4 linked regions of the Homo sapiens genome follow. The protein of the gene in region 1 purifies or fractionates together with the protein of each later gene. This does not show direct contact. Each region holds a gene or a part of one and is shown on either strand. Other genes may lie near its edges. The genes, in order: YAF2, BCORL1, MGA and CSNK2A1.

Region 1 (7,705 bases):
GAGAAGCATTGTCATTTGGATTGAAACTGAAGAGGCTCTGGGCAACTCACCAGAAATCTAAGGGACACTGTGTTCCTGAAAGTAAGTGTTCTACACCACGACCCTCTCAGCTTCTTCCTTCCTCTCTCTGAATTCTCTTCTCTTTTGATTTTGGCTCTAAGTTAAACCTAAGAGCTCTAATTTCTCTGTTATCTGTTATTTTCCTAGTGGTTTCTGAAATTCAGGGTAGAATCTGTGTTTGTATAGAACAGTGTGGAACAGGGTATTGTTACTAGAGAAGATATTGATTGCATCACAGAATATTAATATTTTTCCTCTCTGGTAATGTTAAAAAAACAAGATTAAAGGACTGCAGAACGGTGTTGAGAAGCAAAAGTTTCAGTAGTTGGAAGAAATAATTCTCCATAATTGACTTATTAATGAACAGGGTAATTTCCAGAGTAAGGTTGGCAAGTACTAAAGCCAAGACTGGATAGCTGCAGAGCAGAAGGATGCAGTTTGCTAATGATTTGTTTGTGTGACGCACAGATGGGATTTGAATCCTTTGGGTCAGACTGACCTTTGAACTGATTCTGCCTCATTGCCAAATGTTAGGCCAAGTCTAAGCCATTCTAGACATTTGAAAAACTTTTTTCTTTTTAGACCTGCAGAGAAGATTGAGTCCTTGTTCTACCTTTGAAGTCTTCTTTTTTTCTTTTTTCTTTTTTGAGATAAGATCTCATTCTGTTGCCCAGGCTGGGTTGCAGTGGCATCATCCAGGCTCACTGCAGCCTCGAACTCCCAGGTTCAAGGAATCCTCCCACCTCAGCCTCCCAAGTAGCTGAAACTACAGATGCACACCACCATGTGTGGCTAATTTTCTTATTTTTTGTAGAGATGGGGGATCTCTATGTTGCCTAGGCTAGTCTCAAACTCTTGAGCTCAAGTGATCCTCCTACCTTGGCCTCCCAAAGAACTGGGATTATAGGAATGAGCCACCATTCGGCCCCTTTAAAGTCTTTATTGGCAATATAATTTTTTTTCTTTAAATAATATTAAGTTCAAATTCTTTATGCAACAGAAGCCCATTTCCTTTGGCTATATCCATGGTAGGTCATGTCTTTCTAGAGAACGAAGTTACATTCATGGCATGTATTTCAAAATAAAATGATTTGTTGTAGCTTCAGTTCCTCAAGTTTTAATTTTATTTTAGATTTTGGGGTACATGTGCATGTTTGTTACTTGGGTATATTGCAGAGTGGTGGGATTGGGATTCCAGTGTACCCATTACCCAAATGGTGAACGTTATACCCAACAGGTCATTTTTCAGCCCCTCACTCCAAAATTTTTTACATTGTGCTTTTGTGAGAGAAACAGTAGTAAATGTCAAACTGACAGGAAATTTTTTAAAAGGAAACAAAATGCCACGGTGACACATTATTTTCAAGATGCTGCACAGTCTTTATATCTGAAGTTTCTTTTCTTTCTTTTCTTTTCTTTTCTTTTCTTTTCTTTTCTTTTCTCTTTTTTTTTTTGAGGCAGAATTTGAGACAGTCTTGCTCTGTCGCCCAGGCTGGAGTACAGTGGCGTGACCTCGGCTCACTGCAACCTCCACCTCCCAGGTTCAAGCAATTCTCATGCCTCAGCCTCTGTGGTAGCTGGGATTACAGGTGCCCGCCACCACACCAGGCTAATTTTTGTATTTTTAGTAGAGATGGGGTTTCACTATGCTGGCCAGGCTGGTCTCAAACTCCTGACCTCAGGTGATCCGTCTGCGTCGGCTTCCCAAAGTGCTGGGATTACAGGAGTGAGACACTGTGCCCAGCCTATCTGAAGATTCTTATAAGGCAAGAAATGTCCCAAATATAAATGCAAGAAACTTTAGGAAATTAAGGATCATTCTTGGCTGGCCCAGTGGCCCACACCTGTAAGCCCAGCACCTTGGGAGGCTGAGACAGGAGGATTTCTTGAGGCCAGGAGTTTGAGACCAACCTGGGCAACACAGTGAGATCTCGTCTCTACTAAAAATTAAAAAAATTAGCTGGGTGTGGTGGTGCATGCCTGTGGTCCCAGCTACTCAGGAGGCTGAAGTGGGAGGATCCCTTGAGCCCCAGAGTTCGAGGTTGCAGTGAGCTGTGATCATACCACTGCACTCCAGCCTGGGCAACAGAGTGAGACCTTGTCTCAAAAAAACAAAATTCTGAGTCATCAGAGAAAATGAAATATTAAATATTAAGGATAGTCTGTATGAGGGTGATAATCAATGTGTGATGATTAATTTAAGACTGGTGTCTTATTGGTACTTCATCTAGTAGTGGACAGTTACTTAATATTGCTTAATTCAGATAGCAAATATTTAGAAATGAAAATGATAGAATTATTGGTTTGGGTTTCAAACTGTGGTCTAAATGGTTCATACCAGGCTTTCAAATGTAACAGGTAATGTTACATTTTGTTAGAGGATATTATAACAGTCCTTTAGGTTTCTCATAGGTGTTATTTTAGAGAGCTATAAAAAAGATTTCACATAGTAGAAAGAGTGCTAGATGTTACACTAGTATGATTTTGGTAACCTGGGTTCATATCTCATTTCATATCAACCATTTCAATATTCAGCATTCAGCAAATGTTTATTGAGCATCTTATTTAAGGGCTGAGTTGGATACTAGACATACAGTGGTGAGCAAAATGGATTTTTTTGTTTCTTTAAAATTTTACAGTTTTGCAAATTAGAACCGCTTTAACTGTACCAAGCTCTATATGTGAGGTTTAGTGTTAGTAGATCTTTCCTTTATGTGTAGGCTGAAGAGGTGGAACTTCTTCATTAAAAATATATGTTGTTTATAACTGAACACAGTATTATTATTATGGTTAGGTAAAAAGAGTGAGTTATTTCAGCTTCTTTTAAAAGTAAGCTATAAAATCCACATTCTGAAAGAAGCTTAAACCAACTATCATCTGGTAGAAATCTTTTCAGCATCGTTGTTTTCTTGTCATACTTGCTTTATGTCTTCAAATTTGAGGTTTGGCACTGATTCTTCTAGACTTTTGGTGTAGGAATGGGAGAAAAAAATTGAGGACCATCTACATAAGTCCTTTTTAAAGAAATGCATGGTTCCTGAGCCGCCTCCTGTCTATCTGAGGAGCCTTTCTAGCAACCATTTAGTTGTTCAGAGACTCCTTATTCTAGGAGATTTCTTACTTGTTTGTTTTTTGTCCTGTAAGAGGACTCACACTGGTTAATTGTATATGGGTAAATTTTACAAGTGATTATTAGTGTTTGTGTAGTCTGGATATCAGAGTGGTTTTCAAAGTGTAGTCTGAGGGACACTGAGAGTCCCTGAGATCTTTTTAGTTGAAGCTTTCTATGAGGTTCACACTGTTTTTATAATAATTTGAAGATGTTATTTGCCTTTTTCACTGTGATGGTGCAGAGGCAGTGATGGGTAAAACTGCCAGCACCTTAGCATGAATCAAAGCAGTGGCACCAAATTGCTATCTTCATTGTAATATTCACCACCATGTACATGCATGCAGTAAGAATAATGTCAGTTTGAATTAAGAATATCCTTGAAGCAGAAAAATTTACTAATTTTATTACATCTCATATTTTTAAAAATATTCTGTCTGACCAAATGGGAACTACACATAAAGCACTTCTACTGTATACCAAAGTACAGTGGTTAAGGGAAAGCACATGTGTAGTTTGTCTTGCAAGCAGAGCTAGTCTTTTTGTCATAGAGCATCATTTTTACTTGAAAGACTACCTGAAATACCATAGTTATTCAGACTTGGATATTTAGCATATATTTTCTTGAAAATGAATATATTCAAAAAATATATCACTTCAAGGAAAACACTTGATACTATATGTTGCCAGTGATAATCATTCAAGTGAAAATTAGAATTTTTGAAAATTTGTAGCAACAATGAGCTTTAGAGTTTCTGTGTATAAAGACTTTTCTGAGAAGATTAGTGGTGGTATCAATGAATATAATTTCTGATATTTCACCATGAAATGTGTCAGCATTTGGAAGCTACGCATAACTCAGCAAACAAATGGTTCCTAGTTACCGATGTATGATTTTACAAAACTGTAATGGGTAATCCATCAAAGTACAAAATACCAACAGATTTTAAGGGAACACTGAAAACTTCATTGATGTGGTTTCAGATTTCATATTGCAACTAACCTTTGAGAAACAACTGTGTTTTTATGTAGTATCAAAGAATAACACCTATAGTTATCTGAAAATGCTATTCAACTACTTACCTCTTTTCAACTGTATATCTGTGAGAGTCCAGATTTTCTTAATATTTTTGGACCAAAACAACATATTGCAACAAATTGAATGCTGAGATAGATGTGACAATCCAGGTGTCTTCTACTAACCAGATGTTAGAGGTTTGCAAAAATATACGATGCCACTCTTCATACAAAATATCTTTGTTTTGGAAAATAATAAGTTTTTAAAATAAAAATATGTCATTTAATATGTGATGTATTTATTTTTTAAATGAACTAATATATTTAGATTTTTATCAGTTTTTATTTCTAATATAGTAAACATTGATAGATGACCCACATTAAGAAAAACAAAAAACAAAAACTCTTAAATTTTAAGAGTGTAAATGATCCTAAGACCAAAAAGTTTGTGAACTGCTGGTCTAGAGTTTATTGGCTTGGGTTTCTACATGCAATGGCTTTACTTCAGCAGGTATTCTTTTTATTTCCTTTATAGTGTGAGGCCTGATAACTAATATCCTAGTTGTTTAACTCAGTGGCCCAATCTCACTCATCTGTTGATGTCGCCTCCAAAGTATTTGATGTTCTTGGCCCTTTTTAAATTGAAACTCTACTTCCTTCATGTCTCTAAGACTCCTTTTTCATAGATTTCTGTGTATATCTCTGAAACCCATTTCTGCCTCCCCAAACTTGGCATCTGTATATTCTTTACTTTGTATGTGGCATAAACTCCTTTCTGGAACCTCAGCTAGAAACTGTCATTGTCTCAGCTTTGATTCTAATTTGTAGTCCTCCTTCATGTCCTTTCTCTGGATTGTCTCTTAAATCTATCCTTTTTCCTTTTATGTAGTTACAGTTCAGAAGCCCATATCACTTCTGTCATGAACTATTGGACAAATTGGTCTCTCCTTTGGAATGCTACTAACATGATCTTCATTATCTTTTTTGAAACCTATGTGATTATGTTGGTCCCTGTATATTTAAAAAAAAAATTGAGTCCTATTAGTGGCTGCTGAATAAAGGCTGAGATCCTTAGGATAGTGTTCAAGGCCATAATAATAATCTATCCCTAAACTACCTTCCTAGCTTCATTTCCTGCTGCTTATCCCAATCCTGTGCTGTGTCAGCACTGAATTATTTTTATCATATGGTACTTTTTCTTTCTCTTTCTTTCTTTCTTCTCTTTCTTCTCTTTCTTCTCTTTCTTTTCTTTCTTGAAGGAGTCTTGCTCTGTCGCCAGGCTGGAGTGCAGTAGCGCGATCTTGGCTCACTGCAATCTCCGCCTCCCAGATTTGAGCGATTCTCCTGCCTCAGCCTCCTGAGTAGCTGGGATTACAGACGTGTGCCACCATACCTAGCTAATTTTTTTATTTTTAGTAGAGACAGGGTTTCACCATGTTGGCCAGGATGGTCTCCATCTCCTGACCTCGTGATCCGCCTGCCTCAGCCTCCCAAAATGCTGTGATTGCAGGCGTAAGCCACCATATGGTACTTTTCAAAGAAGCCCTCTAGGATTACCATCCCTCCACCCCTTGGTATCATATTGATTCTATGTATGTAGAGTCAGTCATGCACTCCATAATGACATTTTTGGTGAGTGGGGGACCACATATACAGTCCCATAAAATGATACTATATTTTTACTCTACTTTTTCTATGTTTAGATACAAATACTTACCATGGTGTTACAATTACCTGCAACATTCAGTATAGTAACATCCTGTACACCTGTAGCTTCAGAGCAATAGGCTCTACCATATAGCCTAGGTATGTAGTAGGCTGTACCATCTAGGTTTGTATAAATACATTCTATGATGTTCTGACAATGAAATCACCTAACGATGCATTTTTCAGAACATATCCGTCATTAAATGATGCATGGCTGTATGTATATGTAATTATTCCTGGAGAATAAATATATTGTAGTATAATTGTCTAGACACTTATCTGCCCTACAGGGCAGAGACCGTCTTATTCACTTTGGTATTCCCAGAAGCTAATAAAATACCTGAAGTATTGTAGATATTTAAATGTTTTTTTTTTTTTTTAATTTATTTTTTTATTGATAATTCTTGGGTGTTTCTCACAGAGGGGGATTTGGCAGGGTCATGGGACAATAGTGGAGGGAAGGTCAGCAGATAAACAAGTGAACAAAGGTCTCTGGTTTTCCTAGGCAGAGGACCCTGCGGCCTTCCGCAGTGTTTGTGTCCCTGATTACTTGAGATTAGGGATTGGTGATGACTCTTAACGAGCATGCTGCCTTCAAGCATCTGTTTAACAAAGCACATCTTGCACCGCCCTTAATCCATTTAACCCTGAGTGGACACAGCACATGTTTCAGAGAGCACAGGGTTGGGGGTAAGGTCACAGATCAACAGGATCCCAAGGCAGAGGAATTTTTCTTAGTGCAGAACAAAATGAAAAGTCTCCCATGTCTACTTCTTTCTACACAGACACGGCAACCATCCGATTTCTCAATCTTTTCCCCACCTTTCCCGCCTTTCTATTCCACAAAGCCGCCATTGTCATCATGGCCCGTTCTCAATGAGCTGTTGGGCACACCTCCCAGACGGGGTGGTGGCCGGGCAGAGGGGCTCCTCACTTCCCAGTAGGGGTGGCCGGGCAGAGGCGCCCCTCACCTCCCGGACGGGGCGGCTGGCCGGGCGGGGGGCTGACCCCCCAACCTCCCTCCCGGACGGGGCGGCTGGCCGGGCAGAGGGGCTCCTCACTTCCCAGTAGGGGCGGCCGGGCAGAGGCGCCCCTCACCTCCCGGACGGGGCGGCTGGCCGGGCAGGGGGGCTGACCCCCCCCCCACCTCCCTCCCGGACGGGGCGGCTGGCCGGGCGGGGGGCTGACACCCCCACCTCCCTCCCTGACGGGGCGGCTGGCCGGGCAGAGGGGCTCCTCACTTCCCAGTAGGGGCGGCCGGGCAGAGGCACCCCTCACCTCCCGGACGGGGCGGCTGGCCAGGCGGGGGGGCTGACCCCCCCCCCCCACCTCCCTCCCGGACGGGGCGGCTGGCCAGGCGGGGGGCTGACCCCCCCACCTCCCTCCCGGACGGGGCGGCTGGCCGGGCAGAGAGGCTCCTCACTTCCCAGTAGGGGCGGCCGGGCAGAGGCGCCCCTCACCTCCCGGATGGGGTGGCTGGCCGGGCAGGGGGGCTGACCCCCCCCCACCTCCCTCCCGGACGGGGCGGCTGGCGCGGGCGGGGGGCCGACACCCCCACCTCCCTCCAGGACGGGGCGGCTGGCCGGGCGGGGGGCCGACCCCCCCACCTCCCTCCCGGACGGGGCGGCTGGCCGGGCGGGGGGCCGACCCCCCCCACCTCCCTCCCGGACGGGGCGGCTGGCCGGGCAGAGGGGCTCCTCACTTCCCAGTAGGGGCGGCTGGGCAGAGGCGCCCCTCACCTCCCAGACGGGGCGGCTGGCCGGGCGGAGGGCTGACCCCCCACCTCCCTCCTGGACGGGGCGGCTGGCCAGG
Region 2 (7,705 bases), on another chromosome or scaffold:
ATCTGTTCCCCAGAATATTTGGTTGACCAAGATGTGCCATTGCCTGATCATGCCCCATACCCAAAGCACTCAAAATGGCCTTCAGAATTTATATTTGGCTTTCATAACCCTTGGTCAAAGAGCTGTGTGTGATGGCTGCAGTGCCTCTCTCATTTTCTTTTTTTTTTTTTTTGAGGTGGAGTCTCACTCTGTCGCCCAGGCTGGAGTGCAGTGGCGCGATCTCGGCTCACTGCAAGCTCTGCCTCCCGGGTTCACGCCATTCTCCTGCCTCAGCCTCCCGAGTAGCTGGGACTACAGGTGCCGCCACCAAGCCCGGCTAATTTTTTGTATTTTTAGTAGAGACGGGGTTTCACCATGTTAGCCAGGATGGTCTCAATCTCCTGACCTCGTGATCCGCCCGCCTCGGCCTCCCAAAGTGCTGGGATTACAGGTGTGAGCCACCTTGCCCGGCCGTTTTTATTTTTTATTTATTGATTTATTTATTTTGAGACAGAGTCTGGGGCTACAGGCGTATGCCACCACACCTGGCCAATTTTTGTATTTTTAGTAGAGACGGAGTTTTACTATGTTGGCCAGGCTGGTCTCGAACTCCTGACCTCATGATCCACTCACCTCGGCCTCCCAAAGTGCTGGGATTACAGGTGTGAGCCACTGCACTCGGCCGCCTCTCTCATTTTTAGAGAAGGCACTGCTCCTTCATGCTTGCTGGTGTTTTTTTGTTGTTTCAATCCATTGACTGTTTAAATTCAAATATACATCAGATAAATCACCAAGACACAGAACAATATGGCTTTCCCTGGGATTCAAGATCTGACGTTTCTTGGGTAAATCTTAGAAATGTGTGTGCGCATATAGGGGAGTATTGGTAATTTGAAGGGAAAAGGAATGGAAGTCTTTGTGTTTATCTACTTTGTTCTTCTGTTCCTAACTGGAGAAGTATATACTTGTCTGAGGTCAAGGTTAGCAGAATAGACCTTTTTATTTTCTTAAGCCATTAGTGCCTGATAGCTTAATGTTCTCTGTACTGAGGAACAAGTTAGAGATGGGCTTAAAAGGAATTTAATTTTAGGATAAAAAGAGTCAAGACCATGGAAAATGAGATGAAATTCTTAGGTGCTCAGGAAGAAAAGTGTTTTCCTTTACATATGAAGCATGTCCTCAGATGATCACTAAGAGATGATCTAGGGAAAGGCAGGGTGATGATAATGATTTGCGTAAGTATTCATTGGCAGGTCATGTTGACCTAGTTATAAGTAGTTGAGACTTTGATGCAGAAATCTGGACTAGAGCCTTCAAAAGACCAGCGGGGCCGGGTGCTGTGGCTTATGCCTGTAATCCCAGCACTTTGGGAGGCCGAGGCGGGTGGATCACCTGAGGTCAGGAGTTCAAGACCAGCCTGGCCAACATGGCGAAACCCCGTCTCTACTAAAAATACAAAAAAATTAGCCAGGCATGGTGGTGTATGCCTGTAATCCCAGCTACTGGGGAGACTGAGGCAAGACAATCAGTTGAACCCGAGAGGTGGAGGTTGCAGTGAGCCGAGATTGCACCACTGCACTCCAACCGGGGTGACAGAGCAGGACTCCGTCTCAAAAACAATAAAATTAAATAATAATAATAAAAGAGGCCAATAGACAAGTTACCTTAGTTCACCATCTACTGTAAATCCCTGCCAAGAAAGGAGCAGGAAGTAGGCTCAAAATCTGATTTTCCCTCCATCTTGTTTTTTGTTTTTGAGATGGAGTCTTGCTCTGTTGCTCAGGCTGGAGTGTAGTGGCACGATCTCGGCTCACTGCAACCTCCGCTGCCTGGGTTCAAGTGATTCTCGTGCATCAGCCTCCTGAGTAACTAGGATTACAGGTGTGCACCACCATGCCTGGCTAATTTTTGTATTTTTAGTAGAGACAGGGTTTCACCATGTCACCCAGGCTGGTCTCAAACTCCTGATCTCAGTCTGTCTGCCTTGGCCTCCAAAAGTGCTGGGATTACAGGTGTGAGCCACTGCACCCAGCCAGATTTTCCTTCCTTCTAAACCTGTGCCTAGTGCTTAAGAGGACATTTTTTTTTTTTTTTTGAGACAGAGTTTAGCTCTTGTTGCCCAGGCTGGAGTGCAATGGTGAGATCTGAGCTCACCGCAACCTCCGCCTCCCGGGTTCAAACGATTCTCCTGCCTCAGCCTCCCGAGTAGCTGGGATTACAGGCATGCGCCACCACACCCGGCTAATTTTGTATTTTTAGTAGAGACGGGTTTTCTCCATGTTGGTCATGCTGGTCTCGAACTCCCGACCTCTGGTGATCCACCTGCCTCAGCCTCCCAAAGTGTTGAGATTACAGATGTGAGCCACCACGCCCGGCCTAAGATGACCTTTTAAGTGTTGTCACTTTTGATCTCATCCACCCTTTATTGTCACCTTCTTGCTACAGTCTAGGCCGCTACAGCCTAGACCATGCTATCACTGGTTTCCAAAATGTAATCTCACCTTATTTAAAAATCATTTTCCTTGGCCCTTTACAACTTGTAGAATTTAGGAATTTGGGGTACAAAGCTGTGCCTGGGGTTCAACTCTTAAAGTGATGTTTTAGAGGCCTGCCAGCTTTGGCAGCTGCAATTGAGGACTGTAGAACAGGAGGCATGGGCTTGCGGCTGGCCCCAGGTGGCCGTCTCTAGGCAAACCTACAGCTAAATGTGTCTGCTTGCCTGCTTGCATCCCTTCTAGGATTAATTCATGCCTTCATTCAACAAACATTTATTCAACATAATGAGAGCAAACCAGTAGTTCTAGTACATTGGTGGTGAGTGCCCTAGAATTGCATGTCCGGGTCCAGTGGGAGTCCAGATGCAAGATTGACAAACCTCCTGGTGGGAGAATAAGGAAAGGCTTCCCAGAGGCAGTGGCATTTGAGCCCAGGCTTGAGGAATGAGTAGGAGTTTGAGGTGAGAGCTGGTATTTCCCTGAGACAATAAGAGCACAGTGTGGCTGGGCACGGTGACTCACGCCTATAATCCCAGCACTTTGGGAGGCCGAGGCAGGTGGATCACCTGAGGTCGGGAGTTCGAGACCAGCCTGACCAACACGGAGAAACCCCGTCTCTACTAAAAACACAAAACTTAGCTGGGCGTGGTGGCGCATGCCTGTAATCCCAGCTACTCGGGAGGCTCAGGCGTGAGCCCGGGAGGCAGAGGTTGCAGTGAGCTGAGATCGCACCATTGCACTCCTCCAGCCTGGGCAACAAGAGAGAAACTCTGTCTAAAAGAAAGAAAAAAAAAAAAAAAAAGCACAGTGTGTTTGGGGAAGGTCCAAGTTGGAATGAAGGCAATCTTGGGGTACTGTGGGACTCGAACCAGGGAAAGTCTCCCAGGACTGGAAGGTAAGGAGCCTGGTGTGTGCTGGGTGGTATATTTCTCTTACGGGTAGTCTGGGCCCAGCAGGAACTGAAGAGGGTCCGGTTTGACAGTGGTGCTAGCCCTTAATAATTAGGGAAATGGCCCAGAGGGGTCATGGCCATTTCTGGTTTAAGTTCCACAAAGCCTTGAACATAACAGCTCTGCCTCCTCTGTGGTGGGAAGAAACAGCAGGATTGATTTTCAGTCCTGACTGAAGCCTGCTATGACCTCTGTTCCCTCCTGCCGCCCGCCTCCGCCAGCTGCACCCTCATAACCTTGCCTGGTTGACCCAGCTCTTCCCGGGCCCCCTCCCCTGCAAGTTACTCCTGTCCCAGGCTCTTCTCTCAATGGAGCAAGTTAATGTTTGCTTAGCTCTGCCCACCCCTCTTCTCAGAGGATTTGAAACACGGCTGCATGACATTTTGCAGCGCCTTCGGGGCTGGACTCAGGTGTGGGTATGGCTGGAGTGGCCAGGACTGCTGTTGCTTGGCCTGGTTCTGTGGTTCTCTGGCAGCTGCCTTCGACGGCAGGGATTCTGCTTTCGAGGTGTCATTTCAGGCAGGGTGGGAGCTTGCAAGGGGAGAATGAGGATGCAGCCCACTCCCTTTTGTATGGCCAGGAGGGGAAAGAATGTAAATAAATAGCACCTTCCCATGTGGGGTTGCTTGGGGGAAGTGCTGCTTGTTTCCCCTTGAGTACTCCCCCTAAAACCGTCCCTGGCAAGTCTAGTGGGAACACGCTTCCCCCTGGCCCAAGGCTGGGCATAGGTCTCGCTTTTGTGGTCTCTTAGGAGTTGATGTGAAAGTATGTTTTCCCTTTCCTTCAGGCCCTCCCTCCCTCCCCTTCCCCGAGACCACCCTGACTGCATCTAAAGCCCTTGCCTCTCCTTACAGTCATTTCTGTTTGTCACCAACAGTCACTTCCAGCAGTGGAGCCCTCCCACTTCTGCCAGTCCAACTGCCTTTTAAAGGGAACAAGCCTTTCCCCCTCGGTTAGCCCCTTCTGGATCCCTGAAAAGATGGGGAGAGGCCCGTGGTGATCCCCCTTGCCTTTTTTGCTTCTCTTGCCCCAGGTACAATTTTGGAGTCCCTGTTTCAGTGGGAGGGAGGAAGTTAGCAGGGCCCTCCCCCTTCTTGTTGGGGTTGGCTCCAGCAACCTGACTGCCCTTTGGCTAGGGTGACTGGGGAGGCGAGAGCTGGCTTCTTCAGGGCTGTCTTCAGGAGCTTGGGGTGAGCCTCTAAAGAAGGGAGGCAAAAATTAGCCAGGCGTGGTGGAGCATGCCTATAATTCTGGCTATGCTGGAGGCTGAGGCAGGAGAATTGCCTGATTCCAGGAGGCGGAGGTTGCAGTGAGCCGAGATCGAGATCGTGCCACTGCACTCCAGCCTGGGTGACAGAGCGAGATTCAATCTAAAAAAAAAAAAAAAAAAAAAAAAAAAAAAAAAGAGGGAAAAAAGGAAAGAAAGAAGGGAGGTCACCTCAGGCACAGTGTATTTCCCCAGGGGCACACAGAGCAGTCCTGTGCCTTGCCCACCCAGGAAACGCACTGCAGCGTCTATGTTGGGGTTTTATTCTTTAATCTAAACCTCCTCCTTGGCCACTCCCACCCACAGCTCCCAAGGGCAGGGGGCAATAGTTTTTTTTGGTTGTTGTTGTTGTTGTTTTGAGACAGGGTCTCACTCTGTCGCCCAGGTTGAAGTGCAGTGGTGGGATCTCGGCTCACTGCAACCTCCGCCTCCCAGACTCAAGCGATTCTCCTGCCTCAGCCTCCCAAGTAGCTGGGATTACAGGTGCCTGCCATCACGCCTGGCTAATTTTTGTATTTTTTAGTAGATATGGAGTTTTACCATGATGGCCAGGCTGATATTGAACTCCTGACCTCAGTGATGCACCCACCTCAGCTGGCCTCCCAAAGTGCTGGGATTACAGGTGTGAGCCACCATGCCTGGCCTAATAGTTCTTGCTGTACTTAAAATACCAGGGGAGGGAGGCAGTCTGATGCCACCCTCTCCCTTTTTTTTTTTGTCAGGATGTACAATTTTCTATGATGCTTACCTGAAATTTGGAGAAGACTTTAAACAGGGGGAGATGCATTTGAGTTTTCCTCCTTTGGGACCCAGCTCTCTGGCCTTGAGCCCTTTTCTCTGGGACATATGAACCTGAATTTGGGGTCTGAGGCTTTTCGGACAGGAGAGAACAAAGTGGTGCTGGGAGACTGATGGGGGGGCAGGGAGGGGTGCTGGCAGGAGATAGGATGTAGGCAAGGATAGAAGGAGGGTAGAAGGGAGGGTGTTGCCTAGAACTCTAGAAAAAAGGGGGCAGTGTCTCCTGGAGGGAAAAAAGTAGTATTCTTAAAATGCCTCTCAGCACCCAGTGACCTGGTGGCCTCCAAGTGGTATCATCACCAGTGCTAATAAACATGTCTCTGCTCTAGGCAAGACAGGAGGTGAATAGGTGACGATTCAGATTTAGACCTGAAAACACAACAGGGGTTTATTTGTTTTAGAAGAGGATTACCCATATGACACTTTCAGCCAGCTGCCCTTAGAGACTTAAAATAAGATTGTATTTAAAAGAAAAATGGGTTTTGCATGCCTTTTGAGGCATTCAGTGGTTCTCATGTCTCCCCTTTGAGCAATGCCCTGTACATCCTGGATGGTCATTTTGGCAGGTAAGCTCCAGGGAAAAGGTAAAAGTGCTAGGGTGTCCACACTCCTGGCAAGAGCCCTAGAAAACAGGGTAAACAGTCCAAAGAGGGGGGTCTAGTCAGACTGGGCTCTGGTAGGGACTTGCAAAGCTAGGTGTGGCGCCTCCGCTTTGTAACCAAGAACCCCCAGTTCCTTGTAATCCCCCTCACAAGTTACTACAGGAAGTGAGGTAGGAAGGTTTTATGGGGACCCAGGCAGGCAGGAGGCATTCTGGGGAAGGTGGTGTTGGCTCAAATCCTGGGCCTCATGTCCCTTCTCTGGTTGTATCTTCCATGCTAGAAGAGCACCTCTTTCTGATGAGGAGTCAACGACAGGCGACTGCCAGCACTTTGGATCTCAGGAGTTTTGTGTCAGCAGCAGTTTTTCCAAGGTAAGAGGCTTTATGGAGCCACGTGCTGTCCACCAAAGGATGGAGCTGAGCTGCCTGGGAGGTGTGCCCAGCCTGCCATCCCAGGAAGTGGGCAGGAAGGGACAGGGTCTCTCCCAGGAGTTGGTATTGGTGGGACACAAATTGGCTGGCTGCCCTCTGCGTCTTCCGAGACCTGGTTGGTCGAGTTGCAGAGAAGACCAGCAGTTGCCTCTCGGGCCTCAGGACACTTGCACCATCTGCAGGGAGCTGGCTGAGATGTGCATGCTATCCTGTCGTTGCAGGTGGAGCTCACGGCAGTTGGAAGTGGCAGCAATGCCCGGGGGGCAGACCCAGATGGCAGTGCTACAGAAAAACTTGGGCACAAGTCAGAAGACAAGCCTGACGATCCCCAGCCAAAAATGGACTACGCTGGGAACGTGGCAGAGGCTGAGGGCCTCTTGGTGCCCCTGAGCAGCCCAGGAGACGGGCTCAAGCTTCCCGCATCTGACAGCGCCGAGGCCAGCAACAGCAGGGCCGACTGCTCCTGGACTCCACTCAACACCCAAATGAGCAAACAGGTTGACTGCTCACCCGCCGGAGTAAAGGCTTTGGACTCTCGGCAAGGTGTTGGAGAGAAGAATACTTTCATTTTGGCAACTCTGGGAACTGGAGTCCCTGTGGAGGGGACCCTGCCCCTGGTTACCACTAACTTCAGTCCTCTGCCAGCCCCTATCTGTCCCCCTGCTCCCGGTTCGGCCTCTGTGCCCCACTCTGTTCCAGATGCATTCCAGGTTCCCCTCTCCGTCCCTGCCCCAGTCCCCCATTCAGGGCTTGTTCCAGTCCAAGTTGCCACTTCGGTTCCAGCTCCTTCCCCTCCCTTAGCACCTGTCCCGGCTCTGGCTCCAGCGCCACCGTCAGTGCCCACGCTCATCTCTGACTCGAACCCCCTTTCTGTTTCGGCCTCAGTCTTGGTGCCTGTGCCAGCTTCTGCTCCCCCTTCAGGCCCGGTTCCCTTGTCGGCTCCAGCTCCTGCCCCGCTTTCAGTCCCAGTTTCAGCTCCTCCCTTGGCTCTCATCCAGGCTCCTGTGCCCCCTTCAGCTCCGACCTTGGTTCTCGCTCCCGTCCCCACTCCGGTTCTGGCTCCCATGCCAGCATCCACGCCTCCAGCGGCCCCTGCCCCTCCGTCTGTGCCCATGCCCACTCCAACCCCATCTTCCGGCCCACCTTCTACCCCCACCCTCATCCCCGCCTTTGCTCCTACACC
Region 3 (7,705 bases), on another chromosome or scaffold:
TAGTATTTCGAAATATGTCTTCCAATCAGGAAAGGGCATCTTTAAAGTACTATTAATGGTTTGAAATCTCTATTAATTCACATCTTCTGCATTAAATTTCTGCTTTTTCTTTTTGTTTTAAAAACATCTTTTGCCTCTTCTAAGCCAGGTTTATTTCCCTGCTTCTTTGATGTCTCTTAATTTCATTCCATTTTGGGGGGCTTAAGTAATTTTTTCCTTCTGAAAAATAATTCCCACAAACCTTTAAGCTTTGCATATTTGTTAGTGAATTTTAAAAACCAAAAGCCCTTTATAAACCAAGGATTTTTAGTTCTTTATCTTCCTCAGGTGGTATAAGCTTAGAAATTGACCCATAACTCTAGTAAGTGTTATGAGCTTTAATTTTAAAGTTAAATTGTGCAGAATCTGGATTTTATTTAAAAACATAAGAGGCCAGGCACATTGGCTCATACCTATAATCCCAACATTTTAGGAGGCCAAGGCAGGAGGATTGCTTGAGCCCCAGGGGTTCCAGACCAGCCTGGGCAACATAGCAAACTCCATCTCCACAAAAAAAAAAAAAAGCGTGCACCTGTGGTCCCAGCTACTTGGGAGGCTGAGCCTGGGAGTTCGAGGTGGCAGTGAGCTGTGATCCCACCACTGCACTCTAGCCTGGGTGACAGAGTGCGATGCTGTCTCAAAAGAATGAAGTTGAAGCATAATTTTATCATGAATGATCCCTTTAACAGGAATCCAGATTTAGAGAGATAACCATGTTTTTCTTTAGGCAAAAGTATTATCTCTTTAAATGTGCCTCTTGACAGTTGATACTCTATTTTTTACCATTCTAAATGTAAAGCTCCATAATGTCTGGCTGTTCTCAGCCATAAATAGTGTATTATGAAACTACAGAATTTCAGCAACTTTATAATCCAAATTAGACGTTATTTGAAGCAAGGTCAGATTCTGTGCCTTAATGACTGGGCATGGTGGCTCATGGCTGCAGTCCCAGCACTTTGGAAGGCCGAGATGGCAGGATCACTTGAGGCCAGGAGTTTGAGACTAGCTTGAGCAACAAAGCAAGACCCTGTCTCTGCAAAGAATAACATAATTAGCCAGGTGTAGTGACACATCCCTGTAGTCCCAGTTACTTGGAAGGCTGAGGCAGGAGGATCTCTTGAACCAAGGAGTTTGAGACTGCAGTGAGCTATGATTGAGCTACTGCACTGAAGGTGACAAGTGCAACCCTGCCTCTTTAAAAAAAAAAAAATATAGACTGGGCGCGGTGGCTCACGCCTGTAATCTCAGCACTTTGGGAGGCCGAGAACGGCAGATCACTTGAGGTCAGGGGTTTGAGACCAGCCTCACCAACATGGTGAAACCCTGTCTCTACCCAAAAATACAGAAATAAGCCAGGTGTGCTGGTGCACACCTGTAGTCGCAGCTACTCGGTATGCTGAAGTGGAAGAATCACTTGAACTAGGGAGGTGCGGAGGTTGTAGTCAGTCGAGGTTGTGTCATTGCACTCCAGCCTGAGCAACAAAGCAAGACTGTGTCTTAAAAAATATTATGAATACTTTTTTTTCCTACGTGTGTTAAAGGGGAATTTGGGTACCATGTTTCCATTTCCTGTTTTTCAGAAAATGCTGCTCAAATTCCAGTGGCTACTCCACAGGTCTCTCCTAACACAGTGAAACGTGCTGGACCTCGATTGTTGTTGATTCCAGTGCAGCAGGGTTCTCCTACTCTTAGACCTGTCTCAAACACACAACTTCAGGGACATCGGATGGTCTTGCAGCCTGTTAGGAGTCCAAGTGGAATGAACTTATTCAGGCACCCTAATGGGCAGATTGTCCAGCTTCTACCTTTGCATCAGCTTCGAGGCTCTAATACCCAGCCCAACTTACAGCCTGTCATGTTTCGGAACCCAGGTATAAAGTTCTTTTTTATGAACTTTTCTTTTGTTGAATCACTTGGCCATATGGTATGTTAATACACCAAGATTGTTTTTCTTCATCTCTTAAGAGTTACTTTTCCAAAAAGAAAAGCAAACATTGGAAGTCTTGATATGGGCAGTCATGATTTAAAAATTTCTCTCTTATTTTTTAAACCAGGGTCTGTGATGGGAATCCGGTTACCTGCTCCTTCCAAACCCTCTGAGACTCCGCCATCTTCCACTTCGTCCTCTGCTTTCTCTGTCATGAATCCTGTAATTCAAGCTGTTGGGTCTTCTTCAGCAGTGAATGTTATCACTCAGGCACCATCATTGCTTTCCTCTGGAGCTAGTTTTGTGTCTCAGGCTGGTACATTGACCCTGAGGATTTCTCCTCCTGAACCACAAAGCTTTGCAAGTAAAACAGGCTCTGAAACCAAAATAACTTATAGCTCAGGAGGACAGCCTGTTGGTACAGCCAGTCTTATTCCTCTCCAGTCTGGTAGTTTTGCCTTGTTACAGCTCCCAGGACAAAAGCCTGTTCCTAGCTCCATTCTTCAGCATGTTGCTTCCCTTCAGATGAAGAGAGAATCTCAGAATCCAGACCAGAAAGATGAAACAAACTCAATAAAAAGAGAGCAAGAAACGAAGAAGGTTCTACAGTCAGAAGGAGAGGCTGTAGACCCTGAGGCTAATGTAATAAAACAAAACTCAGGAGCTGCTACCTCAGAAGAAACTCTGAATGATTCCTTGGAAGATAGGGGTGATCATTTGGATGAAGAATGCCTTCCAGAAGAAGGTTGTGCAACTGTCAAACCATCTGAGCATTCCTGTATCACTGGGTCACATACAGATCAAGATTATAAAGATGTTAATGAAGAATATGGGGCTAGGAATCGTAAGAGTTCCAAAGAAAAAGTGGCTGTTCTGGAAGTTAGGACCATTTCTGAAAAAGCCAGTAATAAGACAGTCCAAAATTTAAGTAAAGTACAGCATCAAAAACTTGGTGATGTGAAGGTGGAACAGCAGAAAGGATTTGACAATCCAGAAGAAAACTCAAGTGAATTTCCAGTCACCTTTAAGGAAGAAAGTAAATTTGAATTGTCAGGAAGCAAAGTTATGGAGCAGCAATCTAATCTACAGCCAGAGGCCAAAGAGAAGGAATGTGGAGACTCTCTGGAGAAAGACAGGGAAAGATGGAGAAAACATCTGAAGGGCCCCTTAACCAGGAAATGTGTTGGAGCTTCACAGGAATGTAAGAAAGAGGCAGACGAGCAGTTAATTAAAGAAACAAAGACATGTCAGGAAAATTCAGATGTGTTTCAGCAAGAACAAGGCATCTCTGACTTACTTGGAAAAAGTGGAATTACTGAAGATGCCAGAGTTTTGAAAACTGAATGTGATTCTTGGAGTAGGATTTCTAATCCTTCAGCCTTCTCCATTGTTCCTAGGAGAGCTGCAAAAAGCAGCAGAGGGAATGGACATTTTCAGGGTCACTTACTGCTACCTGGAGAACAGATACAACCAAAGCAAGAGAAGAAGGGTGGGAGAAGCAGTGCTGACTTCACTGTTTTGGATTTGGAAGAAGATGATGAAGATGATAATGAGAAAACTGATGATTCTATTGATGAAATTGTGGATGTTGTTTCTGACTACCAGAGTGAGGAGGTTGATGATGTAGAAAAGGTGGTGAGCCCATTTTTGTTGTGACTGAAACCTAAAGGATTTAAATGATTTATTAAAGACAGAAGCTTTTTCAGAAGAGCACTAAGGCATAATACATTTAATTGGATGCCTAGGTTTAAGATTATGACTTAAATGGCTTAGTAGTTCTTTAGGCTGTGTCAATCAAGCATCATTTATTGAGCTTTTATTCTTTGAGACTTGTCTGGTTTTATGGGAAGGCTGGCTTAAATATTTGGGGGATAGGTGCTTGAGAGTCCCTACCGAGTTAGATTTTTAAAATCCCGAAACCACTACTCCCATTTGACCTCAGTCAATTTCTATGACGTTTTCTATGTGAGGTGGTTGTAGCTTCTCTGGTAGATGTTAATCAGAAACTGGGAATGGGTGACCTTAGAACTAGAGGAGAACTTATTCACTTGCATATAGAGAGATGTTTTTGTTTTTGGAGAAAAACTGGAAAATACCATCATATTCTAGTACCATTTTGCCTTGAGTTGCTTTTATATCCAAAAATTAAATATTTAGTCTCTGGAATTTATATTCTAGACTTTGGTCTTCGTCCTTTGTAATATGACCTTTATGGCCTATTTTTATTATTTTCCTGAAGTTTTTTTTATAGGATTCCTATTTAGGGTTGTTGTATTTACTTAAATAAGTAACTGTCAGGTATTGATACAGTGCAGGAGTTGTACAAACGTTTTCTGTAAAAGGCCAGATAGTAAATAGTTTTAGACTTTGCAGAGAGCTAGATGGCTCTCTGTTGCGACTAATTGACTGCTGTTGTAGTATAAAAGCAGCTGTATTCCATTAAAACTTTAGTAAAAAAGTCCAGGTGCGGTGGCTCACACCCATAATCCCAGCACTTTGGGAGGCCGAGGTGGGTGGATCACCTGACGTCAGGAGTTTGAGACTAGTCTGGCCAACATGACAAAACCCCGTGTCTACTAAAAATACAAAAAATTAGCCAGGTGTGGTGATGGGTGCCTGTAATCCCAGTACTCAGAACGCTGAGGCAGGAGAATCGCTTGAACCCGGGAGGCTGAGGTTGCAGTGAGCCCAGATCGCGCCATTGCACTCCAGCCTGGGCGACAAGAACAAAACTCTGTCTCGGGTTAAAAAAAAAAAAGAAGTTGTTAGTGGGCTGTGGTTTGCTGACCCCTGACATAAGGTCTGATGTAAAACATGGGGAGATCATAACCAGCTGCCTGTGGAGTGCCCTAAAATCTAAACTGTGTCCTTCTTTTCAGGAGCAGATGACAGCCGTCTGCACTGATTGTCATACAACTGCTTGTTTTACAATCTCACTTCCTTGAGATTCATTCTGCCTCTGTGTTATCTGGTCCTTTTCTGTTATTGCTTAACTGCTTTATGCACATAAAATAAGACAAAAAGATTACTGTTTTAAAAATCTAAAATGTTGAAATATTTTATTTTAGCGATGGAGTCTTACTCTGTCGCCCAGGCTGGAGTGCAGTGGTGCGAACTCAGCTCACTGCAACCTCCACCTCTGGGGCTCAAGCAATTCTCCTGCTTCAGCCTCCTGAGTAGCTGAGATTACAGGAGCCTGCCACCGCCCCAGCTAATTTTTGTATTTACGTAGAGATGGGGTTTCACCATCTTGGCCAGGCTGGTCTTAATGTTCTTATATTGGTTATTTGAGTACCTCCATTGTCTCATTTATAAAGGAGGATCTTGCTCTAAAATTGGATGATTCTGTATTCATTTGACTTATACCTTCTCTCCATAGCCTAATCTTTTTCAAGAATGGATGTAAATTCATTGACTTTAGGAGTTATATTGCTGATTTTTTTGTGTTTTTTGCAGTCTCACACTGTAAGTCAGCCCAAGTTAACATGAGACCAAAAAACAGTTCAACTTTAAAACCAGTGAAAACTATTACTATTAGTGGAACTTACATAATAGAACCTTTAAAGTTTTTTTTTTTTTTTTTTTTTTTTTAACAGAGTCTCGCTTTGTCGCCCAGGCTGGAGTGCAGTGGTGCCATCTCGGCTCACTGCATCCTCTGCCTTCTCGGTTCAAGCGATTCTTCTGCCTCAGCCTCCCGAGTAGCTTGGGATTACAGGTGGGCACCACCATGCCCAGCTAATTTTTGTATTTTTTTAGTAAAGACAGGGTTTCACCATATTGGCCAGGCTGGTCTTGAACTCCTGACCTCAGGTGATCCACCCACGTTGGCCTCCCAAAAGTGCTGGGATTACAGGCATGAGCAACTGCCTCCGGCCTGAAGTATCTTAATCATACAAGGAGGCATTGCTTGAATGTACTAATAGGGAATTTGACAAGCAAACAAGTTATACTGACTTTTTTTTTAAAGGTCATATTAAGTGATCTCTAAAATCTAAAGTCTACACTGTTTTTATTTGCACATCTCACACCTACGTTACCTTTATGATTAGCATTGGAATACTGTGAGGGAAGTTGTAAATAGCTTCTTTAATTTAAATCTTCCTTGTGGAAGTTATTGGAATATTATTTAGAAATACTGCAGTTATGCCAGGCGCTGTAGCTCTCGCCTGTAATTCCAACACTTTGGGAGGCTGAGGCAGGCGGATCACCTGAGGTCAGGAGTTTGAGACCAGCCTGGCCAACATGGTGAAACCCCATCTCTACTAACAATACACAAATTAGCCAGGTGTGGTGGCACAGTCCTAGAGTCCCAACTACTCGGGAGGCTGAAGCAGGAGAATCGTTTGAATCCCGGGAGGTGGGCTCATTTACTATGTTTCTGGCATAGTAAACACTTTTTTTTTTTTTTTGAGGGGGCACAGAAATGTTGCAAGCAAATACTATTTGTAAAGGTGGACTTAAAAAGATCTGCTTATCCTATATATCCACATAACTCTAGTGTTACATAAAATATTTAGCAAGTTTCTGTGACAGGTGCTCAGTAAACACTTTGACTCCTTTTTTGGTATAATAAGGAAATACAGCAATCGTGGGCTTTTTTGAAACCTGAAATTCCTTACAAGCTCTCATTTTGTGGTTTTGAGAGAGTTGCAGGACTAGGCTGTATCCTATTTCTATACCTGCCTGTGTATGCTAATGTGTGTTGATTTGTGGGCATCTGATAGGATGTTGGTCATGAAGCCCCCTTAAAGTGGCACTTGAATTTTTCTCCTTTCTATATTTCTTTCACCAAATTTTATTTTACTGTTATTTAATCTTAAGATTTATGAAACCTTAATATATCTGTGCCTGAATTTTGTCCACTAGAAATAACACTGAAGCATCAGTGCAGTCCTTTGAGGATGCTGTTAAGTTTAATTATGTCTGTTTATTTATTTTTTATTTAATTTGTTTTGAGACAGTCTTACTCTTGTCTCCCAGGCTGGTGTGCAGTGGTGCAGTCTTGGGTCACTGCAGCCTCGAACTCCTGGCCTCAAGCAATCCTCCCACCTCAGGTTTCCGAGTAGCTGTAATTATAGGCGAGCACCACCATGTCTGGCTAATTTTTGTATTTTTTGTAGAGACAGGGTTTTGCCATGTTGCCCAGGCTGGTTTTGCACTCCTGAGCTCAAAACGATCCACCTGCCTGGGCCTCCCAAAGTGCTGGATTATAGGTGTGAGCCACCACGGCTCACATATATATATGACTTATAGTTCTTGATTGTTAATTCTAATGATATGTTATCTTTCTGTCTTAATTCCTTATTATGACTAACAATCTTAGGATTATCAGTACTCATGATATAACATGAATGTCTGGCATTAGTTGGTTTTATAAGGGGAACAAACATTTGAAAAGTTTAGGTGTGCTTGCCACTCAATACATTATTTACTTTTATAATGATGTATTTCAGAATAACTGTGTAGAATACATTGAGGATGATGAGGAGCACGTGGACATTGAGACTGTAGAAGAGCTCTCAGAGGAAATTAATGTTGCTCACCTGAAGACCACAGCGGCCCACACACAGTCATTCAAACAGCCGTAAGTCTTATTTCTCTTTGGATTGTTGTTTTTGTAGTTTTGTAACCAGAAACAAAATGAGATGTTCTGTTCAGGAGCTCTGGGTAACTCATCTGGTTCCTTCTTCCTCTAGCTTTTTTTCTGATTAGTATAGATGAGGAGAGGAACTAGAATTT
Region 4 (7,865 bases), on another chromosome or scaffold:
AACCTAATGGGCTGTGGAAGTATTCCACATGGGTCCACTCCATTAAAGTTCACATTCACAAATAAACCAGGCTGCACATTTAATACTTTGCTTGGAAATCTCAGCTAAATATACAAGTTCATCACTTGCAAATTTGGCTTTCCATATAACCATAGGATACAATTCTGCTAAACTTAGTTGCTACTATGTAACAAGGATCCCCTTTCTGCCAGTTTCCAATAAGAAAGACCTCACTTCTGTCTGGGCCCTCACTAGCAGAGTCATTAACATCCATATTGCTACTAAAAGTATGTCCTAGGCCTTTTCTTTTTTGACAGGGTCTCACTCTGCCACCCAGGCTGGAGTGCAGTGGTGCCATTACCGCTCACTGCAGCCTTGACTTCCTGGGCTCAAGCGATCCTCCTGTGTTCCAGGCCTTTTCTATCATGCCCCTCAAAACAATTCTAACCTTTATCTACTGCCACTTTCATTTTTAGGTAATAGTACCCCACTCCTGGTACCAAAATCTATACTAGTGTTCTACTGCTGCCATAACAAATTACCACAAATGTAGTAGCTAAAAATAACACAAATTTGTTATCTCACAGTTATTGTAGGTCAGAAGTTGGGTGGGCTTGGCTAGCTAGGTCTTTTGCTTAGGGTCTCACGAGGCCAAAAATCAAGGTGTCTCAAGGTTGCATTCCTTGGTGGAAACTGGGAAATTCACTTCCAAGCTCAATCAGGTTGTTGACCAAATTCAGGTTCCTTCTGGTTGCACAACTGAGGTCCCCATTTCTTTCTGGTTGTCAGCCAGGGACTGGTCTTTGCCACTAGAGGCTGCCCACATTCCTTCTGATAAACTTTCCATGTGGTCCTCTCTAGCAAAGGCAAATGGAGTCCTTCTCATGCTTCAAATCTCTGATTTCCTTTTCTGCCCATTTCTCTGATCCCAGTTGGAGAAAGTTCTCTGCTTTTAAGGACTTAAGTGACTAGATTCGGCCCACCCAGAAAATCCAGGATAATTTTTCTATTTTAAGATTCTTAACCTTAATTACACCTGCCAAGTTCCTTTTGCCATGTAACACAGGATAGCTACAGATTCTGGGGATCAAGGTATGGCACCTTGGGAAGAGGGAGATGTAATTCTGCCTACTACAAATCCAAGTCCTATGGAAGGGTTTAAACTCACTTCCTAAAGAAAATCATCCCTTTCTTTAACAGAGTGTGAAGTAAAGATGTATATATTTTACTTATGTGAAGTAAAGTATATATACATACATACATATGTCTTTACTTATGTGACACAAAGATGTATGTTCAGAGATAGAGACAATAGTAAAAACAAGGACTCACTCTGGATGAGTGAGTAGGAAAAGGACGCGCAGTATGGAAAAGGAGTTGCCACCTGTTTCATCCTCAAATTGCAAGGCACTTCACCCATAACTACTTAGAAACTAACCCATGCTCCTCCTTAAATGTGTATTTCTCTTCTCTGTATTCCACAAAGGAGTACATAACTAGGCTTTTTTTTATTTTTAAAGAAAAGTCACCTCACGGGGACCTAACTGTATAATCAGTTGATTAATCAATCTAAGCAAATTTCCAATCTTGCATTCTTTCTTCAAGTCATACACCCTCCCGCAATAGCAAACCAAAGCCAAGTATTTCAAAGTCACAGAAGGACAAAAACATGCCCTGCTAAGACTGCAGGTGAACTTTTGAGAATACCACGGAGGAGAACTAGTATTGGTACTGGACTTTCAGCCCCAGGTCCACCAAGCCAGTAAAGCCAAATGACTTACAACAAAACCCTACAACAACTACAAAGATACTACTCTAAAGCCCTGTCTACAGTCAAATTCTTGACTATAAATTTTACTTAGAACAGAAGAGCCCCAAATATACCAGCTAGTCCCTTTACAGTGACAGGTAAAAGCTACTTACTACACTTACTACCTGCCAGACACTGTAGTAAGCACTTGACACAAATTGTCTTATTTACTCTTCTCCGTAAACTCACAAGCTAGAAAATACCATCATCCCCCTTTTACAGACGGGAAAACTGAGGCTTAGAGAGTTTAGGTCACACAGCTAAGTAGCAATGGCCCTGATATTTGAGAACCTAGGCAGTCTGGTTTTTAACCACTGGGCCTACACTGCACTCCTCAGATGGAATGAAGTCTCCAATTCTTGGAAAAATCTTCCCTTCTTAGTTTTCTTTTTTCTTTTTGAGGCGGAGTCTCGCTCTGTCGCCCAGGCTGGAGTGCAGTGGCGGATCTCAGCTCACTGCCACCTCCGCCTCCCAGGTTCAAGCGATTCTCCTGCCTTAGCCTCCCGAGTAGCTGGGATTACAGGCGCGCGCCACCAAGCCCGGCTGATATTTGCATTTTTAGTACAGACGGGGTTTCACCGTGTTGGTCAGGCTGGTCTCGAACTCCTGACCTCGTGATCCACCCGCCTCGGCCTCCCAGAGTGCTGGGATTACAGGCGTGAGCCACACGCCCGGCCTCTCTTCTTAGTTTTCATTTCCTCTCCCCATGTCCCATTCTCGTAGAATTAAACAGCTGAAAAGTAATCAAGTCTTCCCAAATAATTTGCCACCTTCTTTTCAAAACTCTTTCCTCCACACAAAGCAATAGCCAAGATGCAACTTCTCCTGACCCTGACTCTGCTTCCCCAAAACAAACTACAGAAGCTCCACCCATCACCTGCTTAATCTAGCAATGTTCCAACACTGCAAAAAACACACAACGAAAAACAAAATTGAAAAGTCCTACTCTTTCAAAAGGTCACCAACATATGTATACCCTTAGCCAAGCTTTCTCTCCATACCTCTTTTTCTATCCAGGCTCCTAACTAGTCCTTAACTCCAACTCCAGACGTTCTGCCCCACGTCTTGGTCCCTTCCCCCTTTCGCCCCAGCAACCCCGCCTGGGGTTCTCTCCACCTCGCACCCACTCTGCAGGTGGGAAGCTCAGCCCCGCCCAGAGGGACCCTAAGAAGGCCCCTACTCCAGCTGCCCAGTTTCGCGGGAGGGTTCACTGCACACTACCCAGCAGGCACCACTCCCTCCGCACCCTCCCCCAGCACCCCCCTGCGGCCCCACCCCTCAAGTTCCCTTCCCCCTCTGACGACCCCCTCCTCCAAGTTGTCCCCTAGTCCCCACCCAGTTCAGTCCTCTCCTCTGCAATAAGCTGGACTCCGGCAGCCGGTTCCCACCCTCACATCGGCCTCTGCCCCCAAACCTCGCCCTCCGCCCTGAGGGGTGGCCCCTGGGCCTCCCCGATGGGCTGCAGGGGCCTCGCTTGGTTTATGTGTGAAGGTGGGGGCAGGGGAAGGCGACGGGCCGCTCAGGAGTCTGCTGGAAGCGTGAGGGTCGGCCGCGCTCCGCTGCCCTATCCTGGGCCCACCCCACCCGCCAACGACCTCGCCTGGCTGCTCCCTAGGTACCTGTGGTGGAAGCGGCAGCGGCGGCGGCCGCTCTCCCCTCTGCTCACACAGACAATATGGCGGCGATGGAGGAGGAGACACACGGCTCGGCCGCCAGCCGCAGGGACCAGAGCGAGGCTGCAGCCGCTGCTGCCGGAAGCGGAAACCCCCTCCTACCAGGAGGCGGGGCGAGACAGCTTCCGACTCCGCCCCCAGAGGAATCTCTCTGAATGCGGCCATGCTGGGATGTCCTATTGTAACCTTAGGGATTCAGTTCTGGCCTAGGGTGCAAAATGGAAGGAATCCCCAACGCAAAGCAGAATAAGGAGACTTGCAATAGTTAAGCGCATTTTATTTCAATAGTGTTAACAAGTGACAACAGAGAGAACACGAACCTCCCATTAGGTGAACAGTTGGTTTGACCCAAGTTAAGATGGCGGTACCCAGGTTTCCCACACTTCACCCAGCTGGCCCCCCTTTCTTGAAAAGAACCATGCGCGACCTGCAGAGCTGTAGAGCCAAGCATTCTGGGAGCTGAAGTCTCTTTTGCTCTGACCCCTCGTTTTAAATTAGGGTTTCAGCAACACTTTCTATTCAAACTTGGAGTTCGGAAGAAGTGAATGAAAGTTGGACCCTAGGAAGGGCATGGCGCAGGAGTCTGAGAAGTGAGGATACTAGCTCTCAAGAGACCAAGGCCCAATTCCTTCCTCCTACAGGAGTCCTGCCAAGAGCTGTGCGTCCAAAATACAGTGTTTTTTTTTCCTTCTATCTGCCTCCCACCCCTGCTCTCCTTGCCCGAGCTACCTCCCCAAAACAGCCACAAAGCACTTTCTACCATGCAGAGCTCATCATGGTCTCCCTATGGTCAAAAATCTCCCATGGACCTCTTTATGCACCAAAGATAGCCCAAACTCTTCACTTGACATTCAGAGTCCTCCATAATTTGGCCAAACCCTCCTTTCCAGCCTCCTATTCTGCCACTCTCTTCTCAAATTCCGGAAGATTCCACCCACAAGACTGCAAACAATTCCTGGAACTTAGCTGTGTTGCCTCCCTCCCTTTACACTGGCAGTTACTTCTCTTACTGTCACCTCATGGACTGGATAATTTCTGTATGCCGATTGAACTAATTCAGGGATCCTTTCCTCTAGGGGTCTCCTCTCTGTTTAACTCCCTCCAACCCAGACACTATCAGTCAGTAACCTGAGGACCTCAGTCTGTCTCCTCCATCAGACTGGGAGCCCCCAGTGGACAGGGCTCCATCTGATGATCAACCTCTCCTTTGCAGGCCCTGATAAAAGCTGAAGCGTCTAAGAGTTGCTGAAAGGAGTTCAAGTATTAGTCTCACCTCTGGTGGGACAGAGGTGTGAGCACTGGAACGAGGGTGAGGAGGCCAGGTTCTTTCAGTACCAACCATTATCCCTAACTGTCTCAGAATAGCTGGTTGTCTCAGGAATGGGCCTCTCCACCCTCCACAGCCCTGCCTTCACAGTTTGTCAGCTGACTAGCACCTCTGCTCCCAAAGAGGCACCTCTTCCCCATGTGGGGTTAGGGCTGGTGGTGGCTGCAGACTTATAGTGATGGCCTCAGGGAGGTGGCTGTGGCCTTCTCTGGACCTCATCTGCTAGACAGCTTGTGACATCTGATCCCAATTGCCTGGGAACCCACAACAGTTTTTCTCTCAGTGTCCTGTAACTGGGCCTCAATTTCCCCACTTGTGGACTGAGGAGGTTATACAAGATAATCCCAAAGTTTCTGGGAAGCCATCTTCCAGGAAATGATACCCTTCTACCTACCTCTCGAACGTATCTTTTTGGCTCTTGTGGCTTTGTTTTTCCCAACTGTATTCACATTTGTTTAACTCACAACAATTCATCATTTGCTATGAGCCAGACACTGTGCTAGGTACTGGGGATGTGTTATGAGGAAGACATACACCAGTTGCTCACTGGTGGAGCTTACCTTCTAAAGTGAGAAGCAAGTAATGCACAGGTAAACAAATGCATAAACAAAGTAATTTCAGGTAGCAATAAGTGCTACGAAAGGAAAAGATAAGTAGCTGTGAAGTATAGAGCTTTAGCTTGAGTGGTTCAGAAGGTCCCTTTGAGAAGGAAACAGTAAGTGCAAACGTCCCAAGGCAGGAAAGAGCATCACAAGTTTGAAGAAGGAGGCCATGGTGGCTGAAGCACTGCAAATAAAGGGAAGAAGAGGAAGAAATATGGTGGGAGAGGTGGGCAGGGCATTCAGGTCATGATAAGGAAGCTGGGTTTTCATCTGAGTGTAGTGAGGATATTTCCCATTGCTTAGCCTTCATGCCTTTCCAATCTCAGCCTCTCTCACAGCATTAGTTCTTCATTCTTCTTCCTAGTTCTGGCCTCTATCCATGACTTCATTCAGAGGGCTCACCTGGGCACACATATACAACCCTCATACTCATGCAGGACATAATTGAAACCCAACTCCTGCCGTCTACTACGCCAGCCTCATGTAGGTCTCCGGTCTCAAGAGGCTTCCCATCCCAAGTGTTCACCTAGTTGTAGACTTAACATTTATCCTTAACTCTTACTGTCTCTGATCCCCCACATCACACCTCTCAGGCTAGTCTTTCTGCAAACAACAGCAGCAGAAGCAAGAGTTAAGATGTTGAGAGTACTTGCACTGTGCCACACACTGAATGTTCATCATCTCACTTAATCCTCATGTCAACCTGATGAGGTAGAAACCAAAAGTATCTCACCGTACAGATGAGGAGACTCAGGTTCACAGAGATCACAGGCCATGCCCAAGGTCACATGCCGGAGATGGAGCTTGCATTTCAACCTGGGCCATTAGAGTGACTCTCTCTCTCTCTCTCTCTTTTGAGACAGGATCTTGCTCTGTTGTCCAGGCTGGAGTGCAGTGGCATGATCACAGCTCATTATAACCTTGAACTCCTGTGCTTAAGCGATCCTCCCACCTTAGCCTCCTGAGTAGCTAGGACTACAGACATGCACCACCATGCCTGGCTCATTTTTAATTTAGTAGTATTATTATTACTATTATTATTATTGTACAGATGGGGTCTTGCTATGTTGCCAGGGCTGGTCTTGAACTCCTAGGCTCAAGCAGTTCCCCTGCCTTGGCCTCCCAAAGTGCTAGAATTACAGGCAAAAGTTTTAATCATGCACTAAGAACCTAAGTGTATTTGCTTTCTATTGCTGCTTAACAAAATCACCCCACAATATAGTGGCTTAAAACAACAATATTTTATGTTTGTGTGGATTGGCAGTTTGGACATGTCTCAGCCAGGACAGCTCTTTTCTGCTCCAAGTGGTCTTTCCTGGCTTACTCTTACGTTTGCTGTCAGTGAACAGGCCAGCAAACTGGTTAGAACTCCATGGCCTCATTCACATGTCTGGCAGTTGGTTGGGGTTGTTGGCTTGAGTGCCTTGGTTCTCCTCCATGTTGCTTCTTCAGTAAGCTAACTCAGGCTTACTTACATGACGGCCCCCAGAAGAAAGAAAACAAAAGCAGCAAGATCTCTTCAGATCTAGGCTTAGAAATGATATAGCATCATTTTCACTGTATTATATCGATCAAAGGCAGTCATATGGCCAGCTCAGATTCAAGGAGAGTAGAAATAGATTCCATCTCTTCATGAGAAAAACATCAAATCATACTGCAAGGAGTCATGTGTATAAGGAGGGTGGAATTGTTGTGGCCACCTTTGCAAACATTATATCACATAAGTAATCGTAGGCATGGAACTGGTTAAAGAAATTATGGTACAGCCAGACATGGGGCTATTCACAGCAATGAGAACTAACATTTTTGAGCACTTAATATGTGTCAGACACTGTACAAGATGCTTTACATCTATTAACTCATTTAATCCTCACAACAGCTCTCTGTGGCCAGTACATTTTTAATCCCCATTTTAGAGATTAAGAACACCAAGTCTCAGAGAGGTTAAACAACTAGTCCAATGTCACACAGCAAGTGACAAAGCCATTGAAAAGAATGAAGACAGTATTATGTCCTGACATAGAAATCTGGCCCTGACATTCTGTTATACGATACAAAGCAAGAGACAAACAGTAGTTTGATCAGAAAACATTTAAAAAGCACATTTAAATAATTAGGAGATGTGTGTCTTTTTTTTTTCTGAGATGGAGTTTCACTCTTGTTGCCCAGGGTGGAGTCCAATGATGCCATCTTGGCTCACTGCAACCTCCGCCTTCTGGGTTCAAGCGATTCTCCTGCCTCAACCTCCCGAGTAGCTGGGATTACAGGTGCCCACCATGCCCAGCTAATTTTTGTATTTTTAGTAGAGATGGGATTTCACCATGTTGGCCAGGCTGGTCTTGAACTCCTGACCTCAGGTGATTGCCTGTCTTGGCCTCCCAAAGTCCTGGGATTACAGGCATGAGCCACTGCGTTCAGCTGGAGATGTATGTCTTATAAAAATTAGTAGAATA

What was found.
Region 2: the proteins of YAF2 (region 1) and BCORL1 purify together in Homo sapiens (affinity purification with mass spectrometry; 6 studies listed by BioGRID and IntAct, with this or other methods). This does not show direct contact.
Region 3: the proteins of YAF2 (region 1) and MGA purify together in Homo sapiens (affinity purification with mass spectrometry; 6 studies listed by BioGRID and IntAct, with this or other methods). This does not show direct contact.
Region 4: the proteins of YAF2 (region 1) and CSNK2A1 purify together in Homo sapiens (affinity purification with mass spectrometry; 8 studies listed by BioGRID and IntAct, with this or other methods). This does not show direct contact.

What each region holds. Positions count from the first base shown.
Region 1 is NC_000012.12:42,227,990-42,235,694, reverse strand, and holds part of YAF2 (YY1-associated factor 2), read left to right. Parts: exon of another isoform or gene 1-4,473; intron 4,474-7,705. UniProt on the Homo sapiens protein: Binds to MYC and inhibits MYC-mediated transactivation. Also binds to MYCN and enhances MYCN-dependent transcriptional activation. Increases calpain 2-mediated proteolysis of YY1 in vitro.
Region 2 is NC_000023.11:130,006,207-130,013,911, forward strand, and holds part of BCORL1 (BCL-6 corepressor-like protein 1), read left to right. Parts: intron 1-4,301; exon of another isoform or gene 4,302-4,457; intron 4,458-6,371; coding exon 6,372-6,462; intron 6,463-6,743; coding exon 6,744-7,705. UniProt on the Homo sapiens protein: Transcriptional corepressor. May specifically inhibit gene expression when recruited to promoter regions by sequence-specific DNA-binding proteins such as BCL6.
Region 3 is NC_000015.10:41,747,018-41,754,722, forward strand, and holds part of MGA (MAX gene-associated protein), read left to right. Parts: intron 1-1,619; coding exon 1,620-1,910; intron 1,911-2,093; coding exon 2,094-3,598; coding exon of another isoform or gene 3,599-3,601; intron 3,602-7,419; coding exon 7,420-7,550; intron 7,551-7,705. UniProt on the Homo sapiens protein: Functions as a dual-specificity transcription factor, regulating the expression of both MAX-network and T-box family target genes. Functions as a repressor or an activator.
Region 4 is NC_000020.11:540,243-548,107, forward strand, and holds the start of CSNK2A1 (casein kinase II subunit alpha), read right to left. Parts: upstream 3,549-7,865; 5' UTR 3,430-3,548; intron 1-3,429. UniProt on the Homo sapiens protein: Catalytic subunit of a constitutively active serine/threonine-protein kinase complex that phosphorylates a large number of substrates containing acidic residues C-terminal to the phosphorylated serine or threonine.